2 separate regions of the Homo sapiens genome follow, and region 2 is linked to region 1. Evidence: fine-mapped QTL for protein levels in blood plasma. A gene starts in region 1. The other region holds a variant in brackets. All regions are shown on one strand. Distances are from middle to middle.

Region 1 (12,161 bases):
GGAAGAAAATATGTGTTCATGCGGCCCATCCGAGAAAGACTAATAATATTTCAAACAGGCCTGCTGAAACCAGCCGCAGGACATCTGGTCATCTGCTTCAAGGATTCATGGTGTCTAAGACGGCTGTGTAGAAAGAGGACATGCGAGCCGTCCTCTGTGACTCCCAGTAAAATGCTCTTTGTAGTATCCAGAGTTGTTCTCTCATTTTCTTCCCTTCCTGTTCCAGTTGGTTCCCCCATGTACCCAGCCACCTGTATTCTACAAGGCAAAAGGTCAGTCATACAAGTTGTTCAAGAAAAGGTTTATTTGCTTTAGGATGACCACAGCTGGAAAACTCTGTATATCAGAATGACCGAAGTCCTTTCTGTATTTGTGTGTGTTTAAGGTCAGCCATCTATCTGCCTGCCTTGAAAAGACTGGGAATATCCTTCTTGAAAAGCAACTGAATGCACGTGAGAAAAGCTCTTCCAGTTCTGAACCATCAGAAGTTTCTGGCAGGCTTTTTATTATGTGCTAGGGTGGGGATTTGACTTTGTGTATATAGACTCTCGATTACTCAGGTTTTCAGACTGACACCTCAGTGCTCCTGAATTTAAAAACAAAACAAAACAAAACACAAGACAACGACATTCTGTTCCAGCTTGCCAGAACCCCGGCCCTGAGCTTCCTGTTTTTAGCCTTGTCCTGTTTTTTAGGCCTTTGAACTCTGACTCCCTGGCTTTGACCCTGGTGCTGGCTAAGGACTTTGAAACTTCTTGCCGCATCTGATGTTGTCCTGACTTTTCTGTCAACCTAGGCCCTGCCGGCCTCACTCCCACCCCCATGTTTGCTTTGGCCTCTGCAAGCAAAGGTCTGGGCCTGACTACATTGTATGTTATTGATTCTGTCATCCCCAGGCTGGGAGCTCCTGGAGGAAGGAGTTTGATCATATTTAGCTGTAACCCCTGATAGCAAGGAGGGTGGAGAGAAATTCCTGGATCAAGGAGCAGGGACTCACAGTCCAGGGAGGGACCAAAGCAGGTAGCACTGCCTCTGTGGAGGAGCAAGAGCAGCAAGCACATGGGGCTCCTCTGAGTCAATGCCCGGGTGATTGATGGGTTGTTGCCCAAGTTCAGGTGCTTTTGGTGCAAGTGACAGAAACCAAGATCTGCAAACTCTGGCTAGCAAGAAAAGAGAGATACCCACACGTCCATCAGCAGATTAGCTGGATAAACGAAATGTGGCAGATACATACAATGGAATGTTAGCCTAATGACTAACAGGAATAACGTTCTGAAGCATGCTACAACTTGGATGAACCTTGACGACACTATGCTGGTGAAATAAGCTAGTCACAAAAGGACAAATGCTATGTGATTCCCCTTACATGAAATACCTAGAGCTGTCAAATTCATAGTGACAGAAAGAAGAATAGTGGTTACCAGAGGCTGGGGGAGGAGAGAATGGTGAGTTAGCATTTAATGGGTACAGAGTCTCAGGTTGGGACAATGAGAAAAGTCTGGAGATGGATAGTGGTGATGTTTGCCTAACAAAGTGAATGTAGGATTGTACACATAAAAATGTTTAGAATGGTAAATTTTGTCTATATATATATATATATATATACACACACACATACACACATACACACACACACACACACCTATATATATATATGTATTTTTAGGCAGAGTCTTGCTCTGTCATCCAGCCTGGAGTGCAGTGGTGATATTATGGCTCACTGCAGTGCAGTCTCAACCTCCTGGGCTCAAGCAATCCTCCTACCTCAGCCTTCTGAGTACCTGTGACCACAGGCACACACCACCGTGCCCAGTTAATTGTTTTTTTTTTGTAGAGATTAAAAAATATGTAAGATCTCACCATACCGCCCAGGCTGATCTCAAATTCCTGGACTCAAATGATCCTCCTGCTTCAGCCTCCCAAAGTGCTGGGTTTATAGGCATAAGCCACTGTGCATGGCCTTGTTATGTGTGTACACACACACACACACACACACACACACACACACACATGTTTTTTGAGACAGGGTCTCATTCTGTCACCCAGGCTGGAGTGCAGTGGCACGATTTCAGCTGACTCCCCAGCTCAAGGGATCCTCCTGCCTCAGCCTCCTGAGCAGCTGGGACCATAGGCCCAGGCCACCATGCTCGGCTAATTTTTTTTTTTTTTTTGTATTTTTGGTAGAAGTGGGGTTTCGCCATGCTGCCCAGGCTGGTCTCGAACTCCTGGCCTCAAGTGATCCGCCCACCTCAGACTCTGGAAGTGCTGGGATTACAGGCGTTAGCCACCTTGCCCAGCCCCTGTTATGTCTATTTTAACACACATACATCCATCATCCCCCGCCAAGAACTGACCTAAACCAATAAGTTATTCCTGAGGTGCTAAATTGCCACCATGGCCCTTTAGGAATTTTTTTTTTAAATTGAGATGGAGTCTCGCTCTGTTGCCCAGGCTGGAGTGTAGTGGCATGATCTCAGCTCACTGCAACCTCTGCCTCCTGGGTTCAAGCGATTCTCATGCCTCAGCCATCTGAGTGGTTGGGATTACAGGCGACCACCACCATGCTCAGCTAATTTTTGTATTTTTAGTAGAGATGGGCCATGTTGTCCAGGCTGGTCTCAAGACTCCTGGCCTCAAGTGATCTGCCCGCCTTGGCCTCCCAAAGAACTGGGATTACAAGTGTGAGCCATCGCGCCTGGCCTAGAAATTTTTTTAAAGGAAAGATGCTGGGACATCTCATGGAACTGAAAGACCAGCTGAAGCTCCCAGCCTGGAGCTGGGGCAGGAAGTGAGGCAGTTCCAGGGACCTCAGGACAGAAGTTCATAGACCTCTTTCCTTGGGACACTGCCAGAAACTCACTTCTGCTCTAGCAGCAACCAGACTGAGTTTCTCAGGTCCAAATTTCAAATCTCTCTGAGAGTCTGATTGGCCAGCTAGATGAGATGGCCATCCTGGGAAGATGAGCTTGGGCTGGGGAGGCAGCTCGTTTTTTTTTTTTTTTTTTTTTTGAGACAAGAGTCTCTCTCTGTCGCCCAGGCTGGAGTGCAGTGGCACGAACTCGGCTCACTGCAAGCTCCGCCTCCTGGGTTCATGCCATTCTCCTGCCTCAGCCTCCCGAGTAGCTGGGACTACAGGCGCCCGCCACCACGCCCGGCTAATTTTTTTGTATTTTTAGTAGAGACAGGGTTTCACCGTGTTAGCCAGGATGGGCTCGATCTCCTGAGCTCGTGATCTGCCCCCCTCGGCCTCCCAAAGTGCTGGGATTACAGGCGTGAGCCACCGCGCCGGCCAAGGGAGGAGGCTCGGGTTTTAACAACATGGCCACTGGGGGGCAGTTATGAGTCAGTTTACCAGAATCCAATTCATTGGCCCGTTTTCAGCTTGACACTTCACTGCATTTATTTGTTTCTCTTAACCATCCGGTCTTAATTACCTGTCTTAACCATCCGGTCTTAATTACCTGGCTTTTGTTTTGTCTTCACAACAGCGTTTTGGGAGAATGTTGAATCCAAGCGAGCTGAGTCAGCTGTCTGCTGTTAAGCTGGAGACAGAGGGGAAGATTGAATATAAATGGCCCCCAACCTTGACAAAAGTCTCAAGAAATGTGGAGAAGCCCCTGAAAAAAACTGAGATTAAGCTTCTTTCACCCTAGCAGAAAAAAAAGCAGGAGGTTAGGAATCAAGCTGTCAAATAAGGGAGTTTTATTTATTGCATGTTTGGGTTTTGGACTAAGAGTTTACCCCTAGCCGTGTCTCATACCCTTTCTTTCCCTGTCCTGCAAAGCTTAACATGGGAGGTAGAGATTTGTGTCTCTTCTTCTTCTTCTTCTCTCTCTCTCTCTTTTTTTTTTTTTTCCAATCAGGCACTCTCTGTACCCCTGCCACCCTGAGGAAGACAAAATATGAGAGGATCTAGCAAAGTCTCTGCAAAAATGATTAATGTGAATATTCCCATCCGGACTTCCTATGAAAAAGTTGCATTATAAAATGAAAGAATAATTGAAGAAAATATAGATCCAGAAAAATCCATAAAGATGGACAGGAAAAATCAAGAGTTCTATGGGGCTCTTAATGGGTCAAGACCCAGAGGGCAAAGATCATCTGGAAGGCTGGAAACTGGCTAAGTATTTAGAATGGCTTGTGTACTGGTGTGAAGTGAGGAATTGAAAGAGAGCAGGAGAAGGATGTGAAATATATTTTTCTGTGTATTAAGAGTGCACTGGCCGGATGTGGTGGCTCACGCCTGTAATCCCAGCACTTTTGGAAGGCTGAGGCAGGTGGATTGCTTGGGCACACGAGTTTGAGACCAGCCTGGGCAACATGGTAGAATCCCGTCTCTACCAAAAATACAAAAATTAGCCAGGTGTGGTGGCGCAAGCCTGTAGTCCCAGCTACTCGGGAGGCTGGGGTGGGAGGATCACTTGAGCCTGGGAGGTGGAGGTTACAGTGAGCCAAGATCAAGTGAGCCAAGATCACACCACTGCACTCCAGCCTGGGTGACAGAGTAAGACCCTATCTCAAAAAAATAAAAATATAAATATAAAAATAAAAGAGCGTACCTCTGCCCACGTCCCTTAACTTTGGTATTTCCTCCTAAGATTGAGAAAATATTCGAAATACTTCTCCTTTATTTTGATCATTGTTCTGCTTCTCTCAATGTGACTGGCTAGTTTCAGCCTAATAAGGCTTCCCCTGTTTTCATAGGTTTACCCCTCTCTTCTGTAAACAAGGGCTTCCACTAAAGCCTGGTCATCACTGGGAGTTGAGGAGCTGGGGTTGACCATTCTTTGCTGTAATAATTTTAACCGTGGACAAGTTCCTGGTAGGCAGCAAAGGTAGGTTGGGATCCTTGATGTACTCTTGGACCCAGTCGTCATTGGGGTTGGTGCAGACTTCTCGGTTCCTCTTGGTGACGAAGCTGCAGAGGCAGAATTAGACCGTCATGGGCTGCAGACTCGGGCAGGAGTCCGGTGCCCACCCCCACCTCTGGTTCACATGGAGCTCACCTTATGTTCTTTAAAGCTTCCCTGGGCCTGTCCTGGCTGGGTTCCCTCAGACAGCCTCTCTCTCTGGCCTCAGAACCTTACCATCCCTTCTCTCAGTCCCTTCTCCACTCAGCCTAGACCCTCAAGCTTGGGTTTCATAATGAACCACATAGCTAAAAGTGGCAAAATTAGGAATTAATCCCAGGCCCCTGAGAGCCAAAGGCCAAACCCTTAGCCACTGCTCCACTGCTTCTAGCATGGAGACCTCTTGATCCCATGTATCTCATTCCTGCCCCTGGGCTCCCTGTCCCTCTCCACAGAAATATCTAAAAGGACGTGCTTACATGATTGCTGGCAGGTGACAGTTGAGGGCCTTTCTGTATCCCACCACTAGTCTCCTTGGCAACACTTTCTCATAATACTTCAGGCAGCAGGTGGATGGGGTGTTCACCCACTCAGGAACTTCTGAAGGAATCACATTGCAAGCTGAGCCAGGGAAGCAGAGGGGAGACCACAGCTGCCCACCTCTGTCTCCCACCATTTGTGTTTCACTCCTCTGATAGCAAAGCCGTCTGTTAGAGGAGACCAATGATAGCTTGACTGGTAATGAAGTGCATAAGATGAATCCCTTTGGGGGACATACATTTAGAACCCTCAGCCTCTGAGCTGAGTGTCAACTACAAATGACTTAGTTATTCACACTTGCCAAGGAACCGGGAGGAAGCTGGCTCATTCTTTTGTTTATTGGTGACTTGATCGGGCAAACATGTGTTGAGCTAGTATTATATGCTGGGCTCTATGGGGGTAAAAACATGAGGAAGATACAGTCACTACCCTTAAGTAACTTACAGACTAGTCAGGGTTGAAAGAGAAATTGAAAAGTTAAACAAACACTACCACAGAATGTGGTCCAGGATAGAACAGACTTTGGCATAAGGTGCTATGGGAACAGAATGAAGGGCCCCTAACCCATCCTTGGTGGTTGAGGAAGAAGTCTCAAAGCAAGTGAGGCCTGCATTGATTCGTAAAGGATGAGTAGGATTTAGACACACGGCTGGGTGTGGTGGCTCATGCCTGTAATCCCAGCACTTTGGGAGGCCGAGGCGGGCGGATCACCTGAGGTCAGAAGTTTGAGACCAGCCTGGCCAACATGGTGAAACCCCGTCTCTACTAACAAAAATTAGCCAGGCATGGTGGCACATGCCTGTAATCCCAGCTATTCGGGAGGCTGAGGCAGGAGAATCACTTAAACCCGGGAGTCAGAGGTTGCAATGAGCCAAGATTGCGCCACTGCACCCCAGCCTGGGCGAAAGAGTGACTCCATCTCAAAAGAAAAAAAAAAAAGGATTTAGACACACAAAGGACTTGTAGAATCTGGAAGAAAGAAATGCAGGAAAGCCTGAAGGTAGGGGAAGCTCAGTGTGTCTTGGGAGTGCTGGGCAGTTTGGGTGGCTGGCATGCAAGGTAGGAAGAAATGAATGGGCAGAGATGAAACTGGAGAGAGGAGGAGGGTCTGGTCACATACCTGCTGAGCTACTGAGGAATTTGGACTCTATCTTAGAGGTATTGGAGAGGCGGAGGTTAGGGGGAAGGGTGAGAGAGTAGAGCCTTTAGAGACAGAAGTTAGAGCAGGAGGAAAAAGTATATGATTTAGGCTTTGGGGTCAGACAGCTTGGGTTGGAATTTTGACTTGATTTGAATTTTGACTTGAATCATGGGCAAATTTCTTAATCTCCCTAGGTTTCAGTTTCCTCATCTATTAAGTGGGGGTAAATGATACTTACTTGTATCCTAGGATCATGGTTAGAATTCGGTGAGAAAATGATTGGAAAGCCCTTAACTCAGAGCCTGGCACACAGAAAGGCTCAATCAGTGCTTATTATAATTAAGAGCCAATGGTAGTAATGACTGCTCTTCTTGCCTTGGAAATGGCGCTTCCCCCCATCTCTTTGATGTATGCAGGATACTGGACTTGATTGGTTATTGTCACTGTGTTTCCTTTGAGCTGTCCTGACTACCCATCAATTGGGGATACTACACAAGAGGTCAGTCCAGAGATCTCTCCCAGCCCCCAAACCTTCAGAGTGCAAATCTTTTTGTAGCTTGACCCCTTTGCCTCCAGTGAGTGGCAAAGCTTGGGACATCTTGAGAGCACCATCTTGCTGATCCATGCTTTGGGTGGGCCATTTTCTCTTTCTTGAAGCCTGAACCCACTGCACTGGCCTGATTGACTCTCCCAAAGAGCACTGTTCCCCCCTCCCACACAGTCCCTCTGTAAGTGATGCTCATATCACTGGTTCTCAAAGCAAAGTTTACAAAGACCAGGGTCATCCTGAGAGTATGTGGGCAGATTACATGGTGCACTTGACCCTTGCTCCTTTGTGTTTACACAGGCAGAGTCAGGCCAGACTACATGCCAGGGTGACCTTAAGAGAGAAAAGAGGCCAGGCATGGTGGCTCATACCTGTAATCCTAGCACTTTGGGAGGCCGAGGTGGGCAGATCACGAGGTCAGGAGTTTGAGACCAGCCTGACCAACATGGTGAAACCCCGTCTCTACTAAAAATACAAAAATTAGCTGGGCGTGGTGGTGTGTGCCTGTGATCCCAGCTACTCAGGAGGCTGAGGCAGGAGAATCACTTGAACTCGGGAGGCGGAGGTTGTGGTGAGCCGAGATCGCGACACTGCGCTCCAACCTGGGCAACAAGAGCGAAACTCCATCACAAACAAAACAAAACAAAACAAAACACAACAAGCAAACAAACAAAAAAACAAAAGCGAAAAGAATGGCTGGGGCAGCCTAGGGCAGGTACACGTCTTTGTCCTCCCCACCCCCGTCACCAGGTCCTCGTAAACAATGATAGAGGGAGGAGATACGGAGGGGCAAAACAAACCCCCTCCTCCATAGGCCCCAATTCTCCCTTTCCCCACAGCTCCAAAACCTTTCAACCCCTTTCCTCTTTTCTGCAGATTTTATTTAGTCATAGGCTGGGGGATGGAGAAGGGGACCATAGATTCCCAAGCAGCCATTCCACTGGGACTCATTTTGGTTGTCTGATAGTCCCAGCAACCTGTGCCAGCCATGTTGAGGAAGGGCTCTCTCGGTTCAGACTCCCAATTCCTGGACTTAGACCCACATGATTGTTTGAACCTTCCTTCCTCTCGCCACTCATTCTTCCAGGGCACCTGCCACTTTTCTTTCTCATCCGCGTGCCTCCCCCTCCCTTTCATTGCATGCACTTCTTGTTGCATTTTCTGCTGCTTTCTTGGCCTCTCCTCCTGAATGATCATTCCTGCTCACCACGCTTGGGACTCCTGAGGAAATGGTGACCCAGTTTCCTGGAACTACTTACCCCAGAAAGATCCGGACCAACCCCAGCTCTACTTACAAAGGGGAGAATTGGAGGTCAGAAGCTATGCATGAAGGTGGGGAGAGCCCACAGGGTCTTATGAGGCCAGAGACCCGACAGCGCCCTTGGCACTACCTCCCTGCCAGCTGCTCCATCCCCCTTTCTCGTTCCTGCCCTACAGAGACAAGTGGACTCACTTGGCTGGCTGCGAGAAGCCGAAGTAATGATAAGGATGAGGACAAGGAGAGACAGGGCAGCCTCGGAGACCTTCATCCTCTCAGCGAGGCAGTACAGCTTCAGGGAGAGCCGAATGAAGATGTTGTCTGTTGCTGGTGGTCCGCTTGCCAACTACTCAGCTCTCTGGACCTTGACCGCATCAGAGCCGGTAGAGGAGGAGAAACAACAGGCCTCAGTGTTTGCTGAAACAGAGGGCAGCAGAGGATGGGACTTGGTGCAGAGCTGAATTCAGTAGAATCTGAATTCACGTGAAGAAATGGGCGAATGTGTGTCAGCTACCTTACATGCCCTATCTTATATAATCCTTAAAATAGTGAATAGCGATTATTACTTCCCTGGGACTACTGAGGCCTAGAGGCTAAATAAATTGTCCAAGGTCACCTGGGTGGATAGGCGGATGAAAAACCAGATCTGTTTGATTTCACCATGTTACCTGCCACCATCTGTATGTTGGGGAAGGGCAGGCAGGGTTGAACCACCCCAGCTTCCCCCAGGTGATCAGTCTTGGGGAGATGAGCACAAAGCAGGATTACAGAGCCCAGACTGAGGCAAAGGTAGGGCTTAGTTGCCTCTGAGAAGGAAATGCCCTCTCCCAGTCCAAGGCCACATGATTGAGCTCACACTCTTTCCTGTCACAGTGTATGCTAATACTCCAAAAAAAAAAAAAAACAATGTGCCTGATCCTTGGGTCCCCATTTGTTGCTGGACCGTTTGACTTATTTGTCAATGTTTTTATTTATCTCTTTGGACCTCGGACTTTGGACTGATTTTTAGGTGTAGCCAGCTCGCTGATCCCTCCTGGGTGCCCCCATGGCCAACCATGACCAGCAGGGGACCCTCCAACTCTGTGCACCTGACAACCTGCGTCTGTGCTCCAGGACTCCAGCTTCTGCCCCTCTGGCCTGGGCTCTGGCTGGACCTGTCCCACAGCTTCCTCTCTCTTCAGGTGCCTCAGGACCCTTTTCCATGTTGAAAGCTGCATTTAGAGAAGAGATCAAAGATATAAGGGATTTTGCTGTTGATGGACAGCAAGCTTTAGAGGCATAGGTGATGTGTTTCAGGTGTTGAGGGCAGTGGGAGGCAGGGGCAGAAACAGGGACTGTGCAGATCCTTATGGGGCTTTCTGCTTGGCATGACTGCTCATAGATAGGTAAACCGTATAATGCAGTTACTCCTGGTGGGTTCAAGGCTTCACCTGGTGGTGAAGCTGTGGCTTTTTGTGAGGGCAGGGAGGGTACGTATGTGGGGCATCCTCTTGACCTCTGTTTATGGAGGTGACAAGGCCTGAGAAGCCTGGTTGTGACTTTGGCATGCAGGCCCCCATATGGCCCTTAATGTGGCCCACAAGCCCTTCCTTATCTGTGGAAGGCTGGAGGCCAGGAAAGGGTGGTCATAATCCCTACTCTGGGCAAGCTCTTATTCCAAGTACACAGAGCTCCTCCTTGGGCCCTGAAGATAGGTTTGAGAGCTTATTCTTGGAGCATAGTCCTCCTCTTGATTTCTGTCTTATTCCATCTGTCCCTCTATCCCTCCCTCCCTCTTTCTCTCCATCCATCCATCCATCCCTCCCTCCCTTCCTCCCTCCCTTCCTCCCTTCCTCCCTCCCTTCATCCCTCCCTGCTTCCCTCCCTCCATCCATTCCTCCTTCCCTTCATCCTTCCATCCACACATTCTTCCCTTCCTTCATCCATCCATCCATCCATCCATTTCCTGAACACCTGGTATGGGCTAGGCTTTCTGCTAAGCCTTCTAGGGGATAAAAAAGTTAGTAAAACAATATAGTATAATCTGATGTGTGTAAGCGAAGGGGAGGGGTTGGATAAAATGTCTTCATGCATCATTCCTATTCCAGACAGCAGTGAAGAAAGGCCTTGAAAACAGCACAGAAAAAAGGACTATGGAGTTTGACTGCTATAGAGAGCCCTTTATGAAGTGTTACCTAAAAAATCAAATGATGATTTGTAGCTTTTACACTTGTCATGAAGCTTAAATAAGATAATGCATACAGACTGCCTAGCAGAGTGCTTGGAGTATAGAAAGCATTAAGAAAACGGGGTCTGCTACTGTTGTTGCTGAGGAGGAGACGGTCTTTACACTGCTTTTCTTTCTCACTTTCTGCTTCTCACTACCTGCATTGCAGGCCTGACCTATTTTTTGTACCAGGCTCCAGCAAAACTTCTGCAGAGCGAGGCTTGATGCCGAGGGTGCCACACCCTGGTGTCCTCAGTGCATGGCCAATGAGTAAATCCCGTAGAAAGGAATGAGGCCAGGGAAGAGCATGAGTGGTCTTTAATTCAAAGCAGGGAAGCTCCAAGAGGGTGACTGGGGCTGAGAGTTAGCGGTGGGTGGAGGAGGGGGCCTTGGCATCTTCTCTTTATGTCTCTGAGCTGTGCCTTCGCCACCCCTTCTGGGTCACTCAGTTCTCCTTCATGTCCTTGATATAGTCCTGGACCCACTTGTCACTGGGGTTGGTACAGACGGAATGGCCCCTTTTGGTGATGAAGCTGTGGAGCAAGAGGGAGAAGGATCACAAACCGAGGGGCCCAGTGGCCGGAAGAGACAGCCCATCTTCCCTCCCTCCTAAATTCCCCACCTGACCTATACTGCTTTTCCTTTCTTCCACAGAGGCAGCTTAGAGCCAGTCTCCTCTCTGAGACATACTCTTCGGTTCCTAGGACCCCTAGACCCATCTAGTCTCTGTGTCCCCCTGAGGAAGTGCCCTCTTGCCTTCTTCTCCCTTCTCTGTCATCTCCCCATCCATGGGGTCAGTTTCCCCATGGCTCCTGCAGGCTCCAGCCAGAAAGCGCTCAGATTGCCCCTCAGCTGCCTCTCCCCATGTAGTCACACCTGGGAGGTACGCTGGGGGTCCCCATTCCACCACCACTCCCTGCTTCCCTCCAGGAGGCCCTGCTGGCTCCCTCTCCCCCCAGTGTGATGTGTGTGTACCACCTACACAATTCCGGGCTTGGAGCACTGGCTGTTGGTCTCATAGTAATCCATAATCCGCTGACGCGGGATCTTGTAGGTAGTGTAGGTGAAGCAGCACTCTGAGGGGTGGTAAGGTCCCCCTGAGGAGAGAGCATCAGATGCTGAGGAGGGGCCCCTTGTTAAAGGCCATACCATTGGCTGCTCCTGCAAGCTGAGGGCATGGAGGAGGGAAGGAAGGAGGAGACAGCCCCTCAGAACTTGGAGGGGAGAGTAGGCTTTCCTCATCTTCTCTTCTCCTTCTCCATGGTACTCCTGGGCTCTTCTTTTTCTCCTCCCTCATCATCAATCACCCTTCCTCCTTTTCTTCAACCCCTCTTGGAAAGACTGGTGGATGACTTTCAACTCCAGGATTGAAGAGCAGCACACTCAGATCTTCTTACACCATCTCTGGGGGCCGACTGGCAGAGAAGGCTAGGGACTTGGCCAATATCATGCAGCCTTCATGCCTTATTCGGGAAAGGTGCTCCAAATAGGAGGAATATTTGGAAGAAATCCCAATAGGGATTTGGAGACATGCCATTTGGGAATGCAAACCCAGCCCCTCCTAGTGCTCCACCCTGCCCATGTCCCCATTGAACCGACAACCTGCAGAGAGAGCAGGA
Region 2 (12,161 bases), 650 kb before region 1:
TTGAGCCCAGGAATTCAACATATGCAAATCAATAAACATGATACATCATGTCAACAGGATCAAAGACAAAAACCATGTGATCATTTCAAGAGATGCTGAAAAGGCATTCAATAAAATTCAACATTCCTTCATGATAAAAACTCTCAACAAATTGGGATAGAAGAAACATACCTAGACATAATAAAGGCTATATGTGACAAACCTACAGTTAATATGATAATATTACATTTCCAGCAGGAGTGTAAAAGTATTTCCTTTTCACCACATGCATGCCAACATCTGTTAATTTTTTATTTTTAATTATGGCCATTCTTGCAGGTGTAAGGTCATCTTGTTGTGGTCTTAATTTGCATTTCCCTGTCCATTAGTGATGTTGAGCATATTTTCATATGTTTGTTGGCCATTCGTATATCCTCTTTTGAGAATTGTCTATTCATATCCTTTGTCCACTTTTTGATGGGATTCTTTGTTTTTTTCTTGCTGATTTGTTTGAGTTCCTTGTAGATTCAGGATATTAGTCTTGTCAGATGCATAGTTTGAAAATATTTTCTCCCACTCTGTGGGTTGTCTGTTTACTCTGCTGATTATTTCTTTTGCTGTGCAGGAGGTTTTAGTTTAATTAGGTCTGATCTATTTATTTTTGTTTTTGTTGCATTTGCTTTTGTGTTCTTGGTTATAAACTCTTTGCCTAAGCCAATGTCCAGAAGTGTTTTTCTGGTGTTATCATCTAGAATTTTAATGGTTTCAGGTCTTAGATTTAAGTCTTTAATTCATTTCCTTTTCCCTAGAGACAATCAAGCTTTCGATGATCATGTGATGAGGTTTCCAGTCAGTTCCAGGTGAAGACACCACTGGCCATCAAGAAGCTACCCTCTCCCCACCAGACAGAGCAGGATGAGAGTTCTATAATCCTCAATAGGTAGGGACGGTGCTCCAAGTCAGCATGAAGCAGTTACAGAAGAAAGACCCTCAGTCCCCCTGCCTCCCATAAAGATTTATGGGGATCACATCTCTCAGAGGGGAAATGCACAGGAGAACTGGGCCTGGAGGCAGAGAACCTAACCCCACCTCTCCACACCCAAGTAGTAAAGGGATCAGAGGCTACTTTCTTTGTAACTCTCCCCATCTTTTCTGCATTGCAGATGAAAAATGAAAGTACCTCTGATTGGCCAAGTCTTCATGTATAACTTTGTAACTTTACTTCAGACTCTGATTGGTCACCTTCCACAACCATTCAGACTGGTTATGGGCCATTATTTCATTTACATAGGGTGTAAAGCAAATAACCAATGGGAAACCTCTTGAGGGTATTTAAACTCCAGAAAATTCTGTAACCCCTGCTCTTGAGCCACTTGCTTCAGCCCACTCCCATTCTGTGGAGTGTAGTTTCATTTAAATAAATCTGTGCTTTTCTTTCATTGCTTTGTGCATTTTGTCCAATTATTTGTTCAAAACACCAAGAACCTGGACACCCTCCACTGGTAACATCATCAGTAATAATTATGATTATTATTTTAAATTGCATGCCACAGAAATAACCAAATTTCCTTGTCAACTGTGTCTTTGACTACGGCTATCCTAAGACTTTTTTCATCCACAAATGTTGTCTTGCTGTGATCCTTCCAAAAAACGTTACTAATAATCAGCTACAGTCCAAGTCTTGTTTCTTTGGAGGAGTTCATTAAAAGGACTCTTGAATGCAGGTTTCTGATAACTTTGCAGATTGTACCATTAGATCAGAGAGAAAACTTTCACTGCACTTATTGAAAGGCTGATATGTTCATAAAGATTGCTAATGCAATATGAAGCAGAGTGAGAGTTGATTGCATTGACAGAACTAATGGAGGACTGAAATAATTTTTATGGCTTTTTTTGTTTGAAATATTGCTGATTCTTTTTGTTTTGTTTTTTGGAGTCTGAAGAATTGTTTTCTTTTGAGCTATTTATAAACTTGAAACATATTTTAAGTGTATTAAGTAAATATACGTTTGTAAACAGAATTTGAGTCATATTTTTCTCTCTGCCTAATTTCTCCAGAATTTGTAAACTATTTGTAAATATTCTTAATTCACAGCAATGTATTTGATTGCATATGGTTCATAACAACATGTTTTTGATGCAGGATATTTTCTTGATGCCTTTGTGGGACTTGTGACTGGAGTGCCTTGTATACTCAGTCCACTGTGCTCAACCCCTTGCAGGAGGAAGCACTCAATTGAACAAGTGCAGGAACCAGCTGGCTGCCTCAGCACTGACAGAAGCAAATTCCATTTGCTTGGACCCACTGCATTCCATCCCTTGTGGAAGAGAGCATGTAAGCAAGTGAGTGCAGGAACTGGCTGGCTGCTTTGGTGCTGGCAGGAGCAAACACCATGAAGGCCCCATGGCAGAGTCCAGGTAGGGGTGCCTGCAACCCCAAGGCCCCAGAGGGAATGTTACAGTGCTCTCTTAGCTCCACCTTTCACAGATAGCACTGTGTTATCAGCTCAGTGGGCCCTTTGACTCATCAATGGGGCTGCTGCCCTCTGCCAGTGAGAGCAAAGGGCCAGTGTGACAGCCCTTTTGGGTACCTGCACTTGGTGGGTCCCCAATTTTTGTCCAGTGCCAAAGAAGAATGAGGTTGGCCAGGCGTGGTGGCTCATGCCTGTAATCCCAGAACTTTGGGAGGGCAAGGTGGGTGGATCACAAGGTGAGGAGTTCAAGAGCAGCCTGGCCAACATGGTGAAACCCCGTCTCTACTAAAAAAAAAAAATACAAAAAATAGCCGGGCATGGTGGCACACACCTGTAATCCCAGCTGCTCAGGAGGCTGAGGCAGAAGAGTTGCTTGAACCCAGGAGGTGGGGGTTGAAGTGAGCCGAGATCGCGCCACTGTACTCCAGCCTGGTGACAGAGCAAGACTCCATCTGAGTAAAAAAAAAAAAGCAAGAATGAGGTCAGGTCACACAGATGAAGGATGGTGAAGGTGGAGTTTACTGAGTGATGAAAGTGGCTCTCAGTAGAGAGAAGAGCTGGCAAGGTGGCAAAGGGATGGGAAGGGCAGGTTTCTCTCTCCTGAAGTCAAGTCACCACTCTGCCTCTCTCCTCCAAAGTCAAGTTGCCTCTCTGTGACATCCAGCCATCATCTATGTAGTCAATTCATCTTTCCCCAATGTCCAGCCACTTCTTCTCCCTCCTGGTTGAGGGAGGGAGGTTGAGGTCTTTATAGGCACAGGATGGGTATGGGCAGGCCATAGGTAGTTTTGGAAAAGGCGACATTCCATTGGTAAAGATATTATTCAGAAAGAACCAATCAGGAGAGAGTAGGCAAACAGGAATAGAAGTTCTCACTTTGGGCAGTGGGTTTAAGGATATTTCTGGCTTGAAGGTGGGATTTCCACTGGGGACCCTCCCCTGTCTGCTTAGAGTTTCTCTGCTTCCAAAGATTGTGTTTCAGAAGAAAAGTCTATATTAGATTAACGTCTGATTCTTGGGCAGCCACGTGGTCACCCATGGTATGGAGCTGCCTATGACACCCCTCCTCAGCATGAAGCAGCCAGAAAGATTGATGACCAGATTCCTCATGTCTGAGGAATTGATAAATAGAAAGTGGGGGCTGAAACTGACCCAATAGTCTCATAGACTGATCTTTTTGATAAACATAGAAATTGACCCTTCTGGTCTTAAAGCTTGAAACTTATATTTGTTTTATCTGCATTCCTTCCTCAGGACAGGACCTTCAGGCCTCTGAAAAAAAAAGGATCAAAGAACTGAAACTCACCAGATCACCTCACCAGATGCTGGACCCCTCATTCACCATGTTTGCTTCCTTGCCTCTCCCTAGTTCTTATTTTCTTACACATTGTTACATTTCTTCCCTGCTATATCAACCCCTAGTTCTAGTCAGTCATGGAGATGGATTTGAGACTGATCTCCCATCCCCTCAGCTACACCACCTGATTAAAGCCTTCTTCCTTGGCAATAATCATTGTCTCAGTCATTGGCTTTCTGTGCAGGGAGCAGCAGGACCTAGACTAAACCCCTGGTGTTTTGGTAACAAAATAAGGCCAGGCACAGAAAGACAAACATCACATGTTCACACTTATTTGTGGGATCTAAATACCAGAACAATTGAACTCATAGAGATAGAGAGTAGAAGGATTATTACCAGAGGCTGGGAAGTGTGGTTGAAGGAGTTGGTGGGCAGTGGGGATGTAGAATGTGTCCAAAAAAAGGAATAGAATGAAGAAGTCCTAGTATTTGATAGCACAACAGGGTGACTATAGTCAATAATCATTTAACTGTACATTTTAAAATAACTTAAAAGGTGTAATTGGGTTGTTTGTAACACAAATGATAAATGCTTGAAGGAATTGCTACTCCATTTTCCATGATGTGATTATTGTGCATTGCATGCCTGTATCAAAATGCCTCATGTACCTCATAAATATATATACCTACTATGTACCCACAAAAATTTTTTAAGAAAATATACCACTGCTTTTCCATTTGTCAAGTGAAAAACTTCTGGGTTATTTCCAGGTTTTGACTATTATGAATAGAGCTATTAAGAATAATAAAATACCATGGCCAGCATACTGAATGGGGAAAAGTTGAAAGCATTCCTCCTGAGAACTGGAACAAGGCAATGATGCCCTTTCACTGTTTTTTTTTTTTGTTTGTTTGTTTGTTTGCAGCTATTGTACAAGGGGTTGATTTCTTGATTTGATTCTCCCCTTGGTCGCTGCTGATGTATAGAAGAGCTATTAATTTGTGTACATTAATGTTGTATCTGAAAACTTTGCTGAATTATCAGTTCTAGGAGCTTTCTGGAGGAGTCTTTAGGGTTTCCCAGGTAAATGATCATATCATCAGCAAACAGGGACATTTGAGTCCCTCTTTATTGATTCGGATGTCCTTTATTTATTTCTCTTGTCTGATTGCTCTGGCTAGGACTTCCAGTACTATGTTGAGGAGTGGTGAGAGTGGGCATCTTTGTTTTGTTTCAGTTCTCAGAGGGAATGCTTTCAACTTTTCCCCACTCGGTATTATGTTGGCTGTGACTTTGTCATAGATGGCTTTTAATATATTGAGGTATATCTCTTATATGCCAATTTTGCTGAGAGTTTTAATAGTAAAGTGATGCTGGATTTTGTCAAATGCTTTTTCTGCATCTATTGAGATGATCACATGGTTTTTGTTTTTAATTTTGTTTATGTGATGTATCACTTTTTTTTTTTTAGACAGAGTTTTGCTCTTGTTGCCCAGGCTGGAGTGCAATGGCCCAATCTTGGCTCACCGCAACCTCTGCCTCCTGGGTTCAAGCGATTCTCCTGCCTCAGCCTCCCGAGTAGCTGGGATTACAGGCATGTACCACCATGCCTGGCTAATTTTGTAATTTTTTTCTAGTAGAGATGAGGTTTCTCCATGTTGGTCAGGCTGGTCTCGAACTCTCAACCTCAGGTGATCCACCCACCTCGGCCTCCCAAAGTGCTGG[G/T]ATTACAGGGGTGAGCCATCGCACCCAGCTGTGTCACATTTATTGACTTGCATATATTAAACCATCCCTGCATCCCTGGTATGAAACCCACTTGGTCATGGTGGATTATCTTTCTGATATGTTCTTGAATTTGGTTAGCTAGAATTTTGTTAAGGATTTTAGCATCTAATGTTCTTTATGGATATTGGTCTGTAGTTTTCTTTTTGATTATGTCCTTTCCTGGTTTTGGTATTAGGGAGATACTAGGTTCATAGAATGACTTAGGAAGGGTTCTCTCTTTCTCTGTCTTGTGGAATAGTGTCAAAAAGATTGTTACCAATTCTTCTTTGAATGTCTGGTAGAATTCTGCTGTGAATCCGTCTGGTCCTGGACCCTTTTTTTTGTTGGTAATTTTTAAATTACCATTTCAATCTTACTGCTTGTTATTGGTCTGTTCAGGACATCTAATTTTTCCTGATTTAAGCTAGGAGGGTTGTGTCTTTCCAGGAATTTATCCATCTCTTCTAGGTTTTCTAGTTTACGCATGCAAAGGTGTTCATAGTAGCCTTGAATGATCTTTCACATTTCTGTGGTGTCAGTTGTAATCTCTTCCGTTTCGTTTCTTACTGAGCTTATTTGGATTTTCTCTCTTCTTGGTTAATCTTGCTAATGGTATATCAATTTTATTTATCTTTTCAAAGAACTAGCTTTTTGTTTTATTTATCTTTTGTATTTTTTTGTTTTAATTTCATTTAGTTCTGCTCTGATCTTGGTTATTTCCTTCCTTTCTTCTGGGTTTGGGTTTGATTTGTTCTTGTTTCTCTTGTTCCTTGAGGTGTGACCTTAGATTGCCTGTGCTCTTTCAGATTTTTTGATGTAGGCATTTAGGACGATGAAATTTCCTCTTAGCATCACCTTTGCTGTGTCTCAGAGGTTTTGATAGGTTGTGTCACTATTGTCATTCAGTTCGAAGACTTTTTAAATTTTCATCTTGATTTCATTTTTGACCCAATGTTCATTCAAGAGCAGGTTATTTAATTTCCATGGTTTTGAAGGTTCCTTTTGAAGTTTATTTCCAGTTTTATTCCACTGTGGCCTGAGAGAGTGCTTGATATAATTTCAATTTTCTTAAATTTATTGAGGCTCATTTTGTGGCTATCATATGGTCTATCTTGGAGAAAGTTCCATGTGCTGTTGAATAGAATGTGTATTCTGCAGTTGTTGCATGGAATGTTCTGTATATATATGTTGAGTCCATTTGTTCCAGGGTGTAGTTTAAATCCATTGTTTCTTTGTTGGCTTTCTGTCTTAATGACCTGTCTAGTGCTGTCAGCGGAGTATTGAAGTTCCTCAGTGTTACTTTGTTGCTGTCTATCTCATTTCTTAGATCTATTAGTAATTGTTTCATAAATTTGGGACCTCCAGTGTTAGGTGAATGTATGTCTAGTATTGTGATAGTTTCCTGTTGGACAAAGCCTTTTATCATTATATAATGTCCCTCTTTGTGCTTTTTTTTATTATTATACTTTAAGTTCTGGGATACAAGTGCAGAATGTGAAGGTTTGTTACATAGGTATACACGTGCCATGGTGGTTTGCTGCACCCATCAACCCATCATCTACACTAGGTATTTCTCCTAATACATCCCTCCCCTAGCTCCCCACCCCCTAACAGGCCCCGTTGTGTGATGTTCCCCTCTCTGTGTCCATGTGTTCTCATTGTTCAACTCCCACTTATGAGTGAGAACATGTAATGTTTGGTTTTCTGTTCCTGTTAGTTTGCTGAGAATGATGGTTTCCAGCTTCATCCATATCCCTGCAAAGGACATGAACTCATCCTTTTTATGGCTGCACAGTATTCCATGGTGTACATGTGCCACATTTTCTTTATCCAGGCTATCATTGATGGCATTTGGGTTGGTTCTAGGTCTTTGCTATTGTGAACAGTGCTGCAATAAACATACGTGTGCATGTGTCTTTATGGTAGAATAATTTATAATGTTTTGGGTATATACCTAGTAATGGGATTGCTGGGTCAAATGGTATTTCTGGTTCTAGATCCTTGAGGAATTGCCACACCGTCTTCCACAATGGTTGAACTAATTTATGCTCCCACCAACGGTGTGAAAGCGTTCCTATTTCTCCACATCCTCTCCAGCATCTGTTGTTTCCTGACTTTTTAATGATCGCCATTCTAACTGGCATGAGGTGGTATCACATTGCGGTTTTGATTTGCATTTCTCTAATGACCCAGTGATGATGACCTTTTTTTCATATGTTTGTCAGCTGCATAAATGTCTTCTTTTGAGGAGTGCCTGTTTACATTCTTTGCCCACTTTTTGATGTGGTCGTTTGTTTTTTTCTTGCAAATTTGTTTAAGTTTTTTGTAGATTCTGGATATTAGCCCTTTGTCAGATGGATAGATTGCAAAAATTTTCTCCCATTCTGTAGGTTGCCTGTTCACTATGATGATAGTTTCTTTTGCTGTGCAGAAGCTCTTTAGTTTAATTAGATCTCATTTGTCAATTTTCGCTTTTGTTGCCATTGCTTTTGGTGATTTAGTCATGAAGTCTTTGCCCATGCCTGTGTCCTGAATGATATTGCCTAGGACTTCTTCCAGGGTTTTTATGGTTTTAGGTATTGGGTTTAAGTCTTTAATCCATCTTGAGTTACTTTTTGTATAAGGTGTAAGGAAGGGGTCCAGTTTCAGTTTTCTGCTTATGGCTAGCCAGTTTTCTCAACACCATTTATTAAAGAGGGAATCCTTTCCCCATTGCTTGTTTTTGTCAGATTTGTCAAAGATCAGATGGTTGTAGATGTGTGACATTATTTCTGAGGCCTCTGTTCTGTTCCATTGGTCTATATATCTGTTTTGGTAGCAGTACCATGCTGTTTTGCTTACTGTAGCAATTGTAGTATAGTTTGAAGTTGGGCAGCTTGATGCCTCCAGTTTTGTTCTTTTTGCTTAAGATTGTCTTGGCTATACGGGCTCTTTTTTGGTTCCATATGAAATTTAAAGTAGTTTTTTCTAATTCTGTGAAGAAAGTCAACAGTAGCTTGATGGGGATAGCATTGAAACTATAAATTACTTTGGGCAGGATGGCCGTTTTCATGATATTGATTCTTCCTATCCATGAGCATGGAATGTTTTTCCATTCATTTGTGTCCTCTCTTATTTCCTTGAGCAGTGGTTTGTAGTTCTCCTTGAAGAGGTCCTTCACATCCCTTGTAAGTTATATCCCTAGGTATTTTATTCTCTTTGTAGCAGTTGTGATTGGAAGTTCACTCATGATTTTGCTCTCTGTTTGCCTGTTGTCAGTGTGTAGAAATGCTTGTGATTTCTGCATATTGATTTTGTGTCCTGAGACTTTGCTGAATTTGCTTTTCAGCTTAGGGATATTTTGGGCTGAGACAATGGGTTTTTTGAAATATACAATTATGTCATCTGCAAACAGAAACAGTTTGACTCCCTCTCTTCCTATTTGAATACGCTTTATTTCTTTTGCATGATTGCCCTGGCCGGAACTTCCAACACTATGTTGAATAGGGGTGGTGAGAGAGCATCCTTGTCTTGTGCTGGTTTTCAAAGGGAATGCTTCCAGCTTTTGCCCATTCAGTATGACATTGGCTGTGGGTTTGTCATAAATAACTCTTATTATTTTGAGATATGTTCCATCAATACCTAGTTTATTGAGAGTTTTTAGCATGAAGGGGTGTTGGGTTTTAACGAAGGCTTTTTCTGCATCTCTTGAGATAATCATGTGGTTTTTGTCATTGATTCTGTTTATGTGATGGATTACGATTATTGATTTGTGTATGTTGAACCAGCCTTGCATCCCAGGTATAAAGCTGACTTGATCGTGGTGGTTAAGCTTTTTGATGTGCTGCTGGATTTGGTTTGCCAGTATCTTATTGAGGATTTTAGCCTCAATGTTCATCAGGGATATTGGCCTGACATTTTCTTTTTTTGTTGTGTCTCTGCCGGGTTTTGGTATCAGGATGATGCTGGCCTCATAAAATGAGTTAAGGAGGATTCCTTCTTTCTGTTTTGTTTGTAATAGTTTCAGAAGTAATGGCACCAGCTCCTCTTTGTACCTCTGGTGGAATTCGGCTGTAAATCCGTCTGGTCCTGGGCTTTTTTTTTTTTATTGGTAGACTATTAATTACTGCCTCAATTTCAGTACTTGTTATTGGTCTATTCAGGGATTTGACTTCTTCTTGGTTTAATCTTGGGAGGGTGTATGTGTCCAGGAATTTATCCATTTCTTCTAGATTTTTGAGTTTATTTGCATAGAGGTGTTTATAGTATTCTCAGATGGTAATTTGTATTTCTGTGGGATCAGTGGTGATATCCCCTTTATCATTTTTTATTGTGTTTTGATTCTTCTCTCTTTTCTTCTTTATTAGTCTGGCTAGCCATCTATCTATTTTGTTAATTTTTTCAAAAAACCAGCACCTGGAATAATTGACTTTTTGAAGGGTTTTTTTATGTCTCTATCTCCCTCAGTTTTACTCTGCTCTTAGTTATTTCTTGTCTTCTGCTAGCTTTTGAATTTGTTTGCTCTCACTTCTCTAAATTTCTACTCTGATCTTAGTTCTTTTAATTGTGATGTTAGGGTGTCTATTTCATATCTTTCCCGCTTCCTCCTGTGAGCATTTAGTGCTATAAATTTCCCTCTAAACACTGTTTTAGCTGTGTCCCAGAGATTCTGGTACATTGTGTCTTTGTTCTCATTGGTTTCAAAGGACTTCTTGATCTCTGCCTTAATTTTGTTATTTACCCAGTAGTCATTCAGGAGCAGGTTGTTCACTGTCCTTGTAGTTATGCGGTTTTGAATGAGTTTCTTAATCCTGAGTTCTAGTTTGATTGCACTGTGTTGTGAGAGACTAATTGTTATGATTTTCATTCTTTTGCATTTGCTGAGGAGTGTTTTACTTCCAAATATGTGGTCAGTTTTGGAATAAGTGTGATGTGGTGTTGAGAAGAATGTATATTCTGCTGGTTTGGGGTGGAGATTTCTGTAGATGTCTATTAGGTTCTCTTGGTTCAGAGGTGAGTTCAAGTCCTGAATATTCTCGTAATTTTCTGTCTCATTGATCTGTCTAACAGTGACAGTGGGGTGTTAAAGTTTCCCACTATTATTCTGTGGGAGTCTAAGTTTCTTTGTAGGTTTCTAAGAACTTGCTTTATGAATCTGGGTGCTCCTGTATTGGGTGCATATATATTTAGGAGAGTTAGCTCTTCTTGTTGCATTGATCCCTTTACCATTATGTAATGCCCCTCTTTGTCCTTTTTGATTTTTGTTGGTTTAAAGTCTGTTTTATCAGAGACTAGGATTGCAACCCCTGCTCTTTTTTTTTTTTTTTTTTTGCTTTCCATTTTCTTGGTAAATATTCCTCCATCCCTTTATTTTGAACCTATGTGTGTCTTTGCACGAGAGATGGGTCTCTTGAATATAGCACACCAATGGGTCTTGACTCTATCCAATTTGCCAGCCTGTGTCTTTTAATTGGGGTATTTAGCCCATATACATTTAAGGTTAATATTGTTAGCTGTGAATTTGATCCTGTCATTATGATGCTAGCTGGTTATTTTGCCCATTAGTTGATGCAGTTTCTTCAGAGTGTCGATGGACTTTATAATTTGATATGTTTTTGCAGTAACTGGTACTGGTTGTTCCTTTCCATATTTAGTGCTTCCTTCAGGAGCTCTTGTAAGGCAGGCCTGGTGGTGATAAAATCTCTCAGCATTTGCTTGTCTGTAAAGGATTTTATTTCTCCTTTGCTTATGAAACTTAGTTTGGCTGAATATGAAATTCTGGGTTGAAAATTCTTTGCTTTAAGAATGTTGAATATTGGCGCCCACTCTCTTCTGACTTGTAGGATTTCTGCAGAGAGATTCACTGTTAGTCTGATGGGCTTCCCTTTGTGGGTAACCCGACCTTTCTCTCTGGCTGCCCTTAACATTTTTTTCTTCATTTCCACCTTGGGGGATCTGATAATTATGTGTCTTAGGGTTGCTCTTCTCAAGGAGCATCTTTGTGGTGTACTATTTCCTGAATTTGAATGTTGGCCTGTCTTGTTAGGTTGGGGAAGTCCTCCTGGATAATAACCTGAAGTGTGTTTTCCAACTTGGTTCCATTCTCCCTGTCAGTTTCAGGTACACCAATCAAATGTAGGTTTGGCCTTTTCACATCGTCCCATATTTCTTGGAGGCTTTGTTCATTCCTTTTTATTCTTTTTTCTCTAATCTTGTCTTCATGCTTTATTTCATTAAGTTGATCTTCAATCTCTCGTATCCTTTCTTCTGCTTGATCAGTTTGGCTATCAATATTTGTGTATGTTTCACAAAGTTCTCATGCTGTGTTTTTCAGCTACATCAGGTCATTTATGTTCTTCTCTACACTGGTTATTCTAGTTAGCAATTCCTCTAGCATTTTTTTCAAGGTTCTTAGCTTCCTTGAATTGGGTTGGAACATGCTCCTTTAGCTCGGAGGAGTTTGTTATTACCCACCTTCTGAAGCCTGCTTGTGTCTATTTGTCAAACTCATTCTCCGTTCAGTTTTGTTTCCTTGCTGGCGAGTACTTGTGATCCTTTGAAGGAGAAGAGGAATTCCGGTTTTGGGAATTTTCAGCCTTTTTGCGCTGATTTTTCCTCATCTTTGTGGATATATCTAGCTTTGGCCTTCCAGTGGGGTTTCTGTGTGG

Which allele goes with the higher level. Alleles are on the strand shown, and positions count from the first base shown. The strength of an association depends on the size of the effect and on how common the allele is.
For the plasma level of the protein whose gene starts at base 8,684 in region 1, allele T in region 2 goes with a lower level than allele G (moderate association).

What was found. A credible set is the group of variants that fine-mapping cannot tell apart. PIP is the chance, under the fine-mapping model, that this variant and not a neighbour inherited with it causes the effect. The UK Biobank Pharma Proteomics Project read protein levels with antibody pairs (Olink). The fine-mapping took linkage between variants from a reference panel, not from the people measured, so its PIPs are less certain.
Region 2: its variant is the best candidate, but not a certain one, in a credible set for the plasma level of the CCL16 protein (UK Biobank, PIP 0.80).

Annotation. Positions count from the first base shown.
Region 1 is chr17:35,972,814-35,984,974 of GRCh38, forward strand. It overlaps CCL16 (C-C motif chemokine ligand 16), which reads right to left and starts at 8,684. Exons shown (of 3, transcript NM_004590.4): 1 at 8,532-8,684; 2 at 5,330-5,450; 3 at 3,686-4,918. The coding sequence starts at 8,607. The coding sequence ends at 4,753. It overlaps CCL14 (C-C motif chemokine ligand 14), which reads right to left. Exons shown (of 3, transcript NM_032963.4): 2 at 11,525-11,639; 3 at 10,475-11,075. The coding sequence ends at 10,988. It overlaps CCL15-CCL14 (CCL15-CCL14 readthrough (NMD candidate)), which reads right to left. Exons shown (of 7, transcript NR_027922.3): 6 at 11,525-11,639; 7 at 10,843-11,075. RefSeq lists an enhancer at 9,199-9,494 and a silencer at 9,199-9,494.
Region 2 is chr17:35,320,947-35,333,107 of GRCh38, forward strand. No RefSeq gene overlaps it. Among named protein-coding and RNA genes, the nearest start is that of SLFN11, 47 kb to the right of the region's middle. The variant G/T (reference allele first, on the strand shown) is at 5,476.